2 linked regions of the Homo sapiens genome follow. The protein of the gene in region 1 interacts with the protein of each later gene in a pairwise test. Each region holds a gene or a part of one and is shown in the gene's direction. Other genes may lie near its edges.

Region 1 (3,988 bases):
TTGCAGTAATTAGATACACTATTGTAGAAAAGTATTGATGAAATGGAACGATGTTTGAGATATCATATTGAGTAGAAAAGGCAAGATACATTAAGTAGGAAATGTATCTTACAAAATAATTTGTCAGACACACTCCTATATTTGTATGTTATATAAATGCGTATGTGAAGAAAGGCTAGAGGATGAGACCACAGTCTTCGGTGAAGTTTAAGAGATGAGGCTGCAGCATGCTCAGAAAGGCCTGGGTTATAGTTCTTCCAGTAATTAAGGATGTGATCTTGGGTAAATTGTCCATCCTCTCTAAACTGCACCACCTTTTGTCTGTAAAACAGGAAGGATGGTATTTACCCCCAGGGTCATCAAAGGATTTGGTTGGAGAAAAATAAATAAATGGGCTGAGCCCAGACCTGGCACAGTGAGAGCACAGTGGTTGACTATTGTGCTGGCCTGTTGTTCCTGTGTTATTGACATGCTGCTGGTGGTGGTCCAGAAGCTATTACCTTAATTGGTTATGTGGATTTCCCCTCATACTGAGCAGCTGTGTGTGGTGTTGTAAAACATAGCCATACACAGTAACTGACAAGGGCAAATGTGATGGAAAAATGCAAGGAAGTGCAGATAAATAGCTAATGGGCTGTAGAAGGAAGCTAGTCCTTGGAGGGCTTGATCAAGGAAGGTCCTTTTGCATGTCACCTTTGAAGAAGAGGGGACATAGAAGAGGTATAGTGCATCCCGGAGTGTACCTGGAAGGGAACATGAAAAGAGGACATTTTTCTCTGGGACATGGGGACTCCACTTGCATGAACTCTGGAATTGGGGCAAAGAACCATCATGAGAACAAGGGCTTCCTTGAACCTCCCAGGCTCATTGGCTGATCTAAACCCTGTGTCCCCTCTTTCCTTCACTCTCCTCTGTTTTCTATACCTGTATTATTGGACTGGACTGGAAGCCACCTGATCTATCACAAGTACCTTGAAATGTGTTGAATAGGTGTGGCACAGTCCTTAGCAGAGTGGCACTACCCCCACAGGAATTTGTTTATACCGTTGGCATGGAAAATAGCAGGAAATGAGTGATCACTGATAACTGAGGATGCTATTTATTATTGGCCAAAGGAATACTTGTGTTGTATTTGCATAACCACTCACAAACTGTTGATTACAAATGAGTACCAGACCTAGCTCCTTCAAGTAAAGGATCCTGAGAACTGAAGGCAAACAGAGCTCCAGGAGTCCAAGACAGAGCCACAGACCACGAGGATCCCTGGCCCAGGTAGGTGGTCCTCCTGCACTGGCTTTCAAGGCCAACAGGATGGATGGGGAAGTAGAGTAGCATCTGGCCATCTAGACCCTTGCTTTTTATCCCCACTGGAAGCACATCTGAATTTCTAAATATGATCTCTGAGACCTGCCCAGAACACCTTGCTCTCAGCCCCAGTAGCAGCCTGCTCTCTCCCAGGAGGGCTTCCACTAACAAGTAGGGCATTGCTGGAGGGCCAGGCAGACACTAGCTTAGGAAATCCACCAACCCTGGAAATGCTAGTCCCTTCTCTGAAGGCTCAGAAGACTGACTTTAGAGTCTAGAAAATATTGGTCCTTGGGAACAGATTTTGAGTGCAAAGAGATGGACTTCAGATGGCCAGATGCACTGCTTCTTTAGGGAATTCTGTGAAAGCTCCCTGCATTTATCTTAATACAGGCAGCAGATTTCATGAGTACCCCCGAGGGATGGCCCCAGGTCCTCCAGCCTGTGAGCATCCTTCTGTCCTTCAGCAGCACCACAGTATCTTTATATGTCTTTGGATACCTACGTTTCTGCCAGACATCTCTTGCTCTGATGTTCTGGCTGCCAAATTCTCTGTCAAGCGCCTCCAATTTTTTGTGTCCTTTGATTTACCCCAACATGACAAAGGCAGTTGTGCTTCATGTATTCAGGGATACTGCCAAACCACAAACAGGTTAAAATCAAATAGCAGATATCCCTGTTCCTAAAGACCCATCAGCTCTACCCACCTGCTCCTGCTCACCGTCCTTATTGTTGAGTCCTGAAGCCCTTCCTTGTCATTTTTATTTTTTGCATGAACAATTTAGTTCCCTTTGTCTCACTCCTAAACCTTTCTCAAAGGATTGGATTTGTACACAAACTGCCTATCTCTGCAATCTTAGAAGTGATATGATTCTGAACAAATCACTTAACTTTTGATTTTTTATCGGTAAGATGGGAATACCAATTTTTGCTCCACTTCTGTCCTATGTTGGCCTGGGCTGATGTTGAAAGCTCTCGGTCAACTGAGATAGGGTGTGCAGAATTTATATATATAAATATATCTCCTCCAACCCCTCCCAATGAAGCAAGTCACGTGAGTCAATCCTACCCTAAGATATTAGGGATTGAGCCTCCTGGGACATTTGGTGGCTTAGGTTTTCATGAAAAGAGGTTGCAGAGCAACTGCTTTTTGTTAGGCAAAGATTAGGCTACTGCAGAGACTCAGCAAACTTCTATAGAAGGTGTCAGATGGTAAGTATTTTAGGCTTTGCTTGCCAGATGATCTCTCAACTAGTTAACCATGCTATTGTAGCCTCGAAGCAGCCAGAGACAATATGTAAACAAGAGCATGGCTGTGTTTCAATAAAACTTTATTTAAAAAAACAGTCAGGGACCGGATTTGGCCAAAGGCCATAGTGTGCCAGCCCCAAGACTAGAGCAATGCACTTTTAACTTTTTTATTTTATTTTTGTAAAATGCCAAGATCCACAAAAATGCTATTGCACCCCGTGTGTTAGCACTGTGACTCAAGGTTTGGGAAATTCTGCTTTGAAGGCGTGATAGACAGGAGAGCATGGTCTGGCCCCTTGGTGCCTTTCTGGTTGCAGCGAGCATTTCAAACTACAGAGCAAGGCCAGTGGTCTGTTCAGCACTAGAGACATGCAGCAAGGTGTCCTGGGGTGAGAAGATGCCATAACTGGTCCCCTTTCTATCTCCTTAGGTCTTGGACTTCATTCCATTTTCTGTTGAGTAATAAACTCAACGTTGAAAATGTCCTTTGTGGGGGAGAACTCAGGAGTGAAAATGGGCTCTGAGGACTGGGAAAAAGATGAACCCCAGTGCTGCTTAGAAGGTAAGGTTCTTGTAGAAATCTACCTCAGGGCCAAAGTGTAATTCCTAGAGCAGAACTTTGCTAGGTGCTGTGCACAGACCCAGTTGTTTCCTGCTGACTTGCACAGTAAGTGAGCTTTCAAATTTCCCTGGACAAATAACTAGACAAGAGAAATTCTGGAAGGGAAAAGGAAGCTTTGCTTCAGTGTCCAGGCACATCAGGTAGTAGATAAAAGGATCGTCCTCACCTACAGATTTGGGGCTTTAGCATCCTGTTTGCCAACTGGATGGTTGCATATGCTTCAAAATGCACCTCTTCCCTCCCAACATTCCCAAGTGGAAGAGAAGCCTCCGATGAGAAGCAGCTCTCTAAGGCTGGGCTGAACAAATGACCCAGGCACAGGGCATCTGAGTATTCCATGAGGAACACATTTGGGTGTTGCCCATGGGGGACAATAGGAGGAGGCTTTTGACCCAAATGATTGTCTACTGAGGTGTGACGGGAGAGGCCTGTGACATGCCAGAGGCCAAACCCGTGATCCAGTTCATCTCTATTCTATGTTTCTGAAGAGGGAAGCTATGATTTAATGTCATTACTATCATGCTGCTCTAGTATTTCTCAGCACATACACAGAAGAGGGAATTAAATGGTCTTTGATACCCCTAAATCCTTGGAAAATCCGAATTGCATATGCTAACCTCACTGCGTCTGACTGCAGACCCGGCTGGAAGCCCCCTGGAACCAGGCCCAAGCCTCCCCACCATGAATTTTGTTCACACAAGTAAGGCCTCGGGGTGAGGTGATGGGGGTGGCTGAGGTGCGAGGGTGGGGATGGGGGATGGAGCCATTGGGTCCTCTTACAGGGTGGGAGAATTGTAGAATGGGGACACC
Region 2 (3,090 bases), on another chromosome or scaffold:
CAAAGTCTGTGCCCTCAGCTCTGATGGGCTGTGTTCCTCCAAGTCCCCACCTGAGAGCTAGTCCTGCTGCGGGGTCTCCTGGGCTGTGAGGAGGGGGCTGAGGGCTTTTTGTCTGGTTCCTGATTAACCAAGCTGTACCCTCCCAGGTATTGCCTAAGGCTGGTGCACTGAACTCCAACGATGCCTTTGTTCTGAAAACCCCCTCAGCCGCCTACCTGTGGGTGGGTACAGGAGCCAGCGAGGCAGAGAAGACGGGGGCCCAGGAGCTGCTCAGGGTGCTGCGGGCCCAACCTGTGCAGGTGGCAGAAGGCAGCGAGCCAGGTAGGAGCCGGGGTGGGGGGCCTGCTGCTGTCCGGATGCAGCTATTAAGTTTCCCCCTTCTTTCCTTCAGCTTGGGGGCTCTAAATCCTCCCCTCCATCCCACCTGAGGGCCTGTCCCCTAATGTATGTTAAATAAAAGCAGTTGCATTAAAATGAGGGCTGTGGCCAGAGAGAGGGAGGTCTCCAGGAGCTAAAGAAAGGAGAGCCTAGCCTGGGCGTGGTGGTTCATGCCTGTAATCCCAGCACTTTGGGAGGCTAAGGCGGGCGGATCACCTGAGGTCGGGAGTTCAAGACTAGCCTGACCAACATGGAGAAACCCCATCTCTACTAAAATACAAAATTAGCCGGGCATGGTGGCACATGCCTGTATAATCCCAGCTACTCGGGAGGCTGAGGCAGGAGAATCACTTCAACCCGAGAGTTGGAGGTTGCGGTGAGCTGAGATCACGCTATTGCACTCCAGCCTGGGCAACAGGAGTAAAACTCTGTCTCAAAAAGAAGAAAGAAAGAAAGAAAGGAGAGCCCAGTGTGGGAAGGAGCAGTTGGTCTGTGGAAGGAGGCGGTCCCTCGCTAGGAAGCCTTGAAAGGTGGTAGGCAGGGCTGATAGCGTCAGAGGAGCAGTGGTCTCCTTGCATCTCTAGACTCTCCATGGACAGAAATGCCACCAGCCTGCTCTGTTTCCAGAATGTGGGCCGGGCAGCTCTTCCTTCTGCCAGCCTGCAGTCTTTATACTGTTACTTTGAGTTCATTCCCACCTGCTTGATGCTTAACAGAAATGGTGAAGAGTGACTTGGTCTAAAGCAGCTCTGTCCAGCAGAACCTTCTATGCAGATGGACATGTTCTGTATCTGCCGAGTCCAATTTGACAGCCATTAGTCACATGTGGCTGTTGAGCACTTGAAATGCGACCAGTGGGAATTAGTGGGAATGAAGAACTGAACTTTTAGTCGAATTTAATTTTAATGAATTTAAATTTAAATGGCTGCACATGGACAGAGCAGGTATAGTGGAAAGAGTATAGGTGTTAGAATCAGACAAGATTTGTATCCTGGTCTTAACACTTACCATCTGTGTGACCTTGAGTGAGTTGCTTAACCTCTCCGAGCCACAACTGCCTCATTAGCTGAGTGGAGCTAATGGTCCTCATCCCGCAATGCTGTCGTCAGCCTCAAGCCAATAGTGGTCCTGGCTGTGTGACTACTGCCAAGTCTGCCCTCTCTGGGCCTCTATTTCGTCACCTTCCAATTCCCTCAGGCCTCTTCCCTCTGGATCTCCTGGGATTTTTAGGATGGAGGGAGGAGAGGGAGAGCAGTTGGTTGCGCTTGGGCAGGGCTGGTCCCAGGGTCCGATGAGATGGGAGAGAGGGGTGATGGCGTCCCTTGGCAACTGGCGTGGCCTCCCCTCACAGATGGCTTCTGGGAGGCCCTGGGCGGGAAGGCTGCCTACCGCACATCCCCACGGCTGAAGGACAAGAAGATGGATGCCCATCCTCCTCGCCTCTTTGCCTGCTCCAACAAGATTGGACGTTTTGTGGTGAGCCCCTGCGGAGGTCACACCTCTGCTTTCCCCTCGGGAGGCGAGTTCCACAGGACTGGCCGGCAGCAGGGGCAGGAGAAACAGTTCTGATGGTGTGGCACAGAGGAAGGGGCCCCCTGCCAGCTGCAGCCAGCTGTGCCACTCCCTCAGGGGGCAGATAAAGGAAGGCCACCCAGGGGAGGGAAGACATCTCACTGATGCTCTTTCGTTCCTTCCCAGATCGAAGAGGTTCCTGGTGAGCTCATGCAGGAAGACCTGGCAACGGATGACGTCATGCTTCTGGACACCTGGGACCAGGTGGGTGAAGGACAGGTGAAGGCTCTCTGTGCCAGAGGGAGTGGGAGAAACTAGACTTCCAGTTCTATGATCAGTTGCTAGAAGGACCTAAAGGGGGCAGTGCCAGGTGTTGCCAGAAAAGTCTCTAAGGGTACTGGAAGTCACTTCTTCTTTCTGAGCTTCCATTTCCTCATCTGTAAACTGGGAGTGGCGGTACCTCCCTTGCAGATACACTCACCTTGAAAGCTGCAAAACGCCCTATAAAGGCAAATCACATGACCTTCATCATTCTCTCCCAGACCTTGCAGGAGCGTGAACTCTTCCTTTAAATCTGTTGGCAGAGGAAGTTGAACTTAGCAGCATCTTGTTTGCAGGCATAAACTGTCCAGTGTCACCTAGAGGCTCTAGAGGGCTCCTGCTTCTGGTTTGAGGGCTCTGGGCTCTGTCTCCACTTCATCTCCTAGAGAAGGCCATTATGTAGGACTTGGCAGGGGAAGATGCCATTCACTTACTCAACCAATATTAATTGGGCACTGCTTTGTGCCAGGTGCTTTATGTTTGAGATGCTGGGATAGAGCAATGAATAAAGTAGGCATTTTCCTGCTCTCCCAGGGCTTACGTTCTCACAGGGGTGTCAGGTCAGTCACCTTTCCTATCAAGGTGGCTTCTCCCAGAGTCCTCAGAGTTACGGAGCAGCTGGCCACGAAGGCATAAGACTCTACACTACCCACAGGGATGCTCGGAATCCCCAGTTGGAAGATCGGGACCAAAAATGATTGCAGCTTGAGCCATTCAGCAGTTGTCATTGATTGATCCATTGGCTACTTAATCTGTTTGTTCATCTGTTAGGGATTCAGTCAGCCAACATTTATTCAGCACCATGGTCTTGCAGGCAAAATGCTGAGTGCTGAGAATCCTATGATGAGCAAAATAGAATGCCTGCCTTCGAGGGGCTTC

What was found.
Region 2: the proteins of IL37 (region 1) and GSN interact in binary tests that used the Homo sapiens proteins (3 or more experiments, as listed by UniProt).

Annotation. Positions count from the first base shown.
Region 1 is NC_000002.12:112,909,977-112,913,964, forward strand, and holds the start of IL37 (interleukin-37), read left to right. Parts: upstream 1-1,188; 5' UTR 1,189-1,272; intron 1,273-2,986; 5' UTR 2,987-3,036; coding exon 3,037-3,118; intron 3,119-3,815; coding exon 3,816-3,878; intron 3,879-3,988. UniProt on the Homo sapiens protein: Immune regulatory cytokine that acts as a suppressor of innate inflammatory and immune responses involved in curbing excessive inflammation.
Region 2 is NC_000009.12:121,327,162-121,330,251, forward strand, and holds part of GSN (gelsolin), read left to right. Parts: intron 1-146; coding exon 147-321; intron 322-1,729; coding exon 1,730-1,854; intron 1,855-2,076; coding exon 2,077-2,154; intron 2,155-3,090. UniProt on the Homo sapiens protein: Calcium-regulated, actin-modulating protein that binds to the plus (or barbed) ends of actin monomers or filaments, preventing monomer exchange (end-blocking or capping).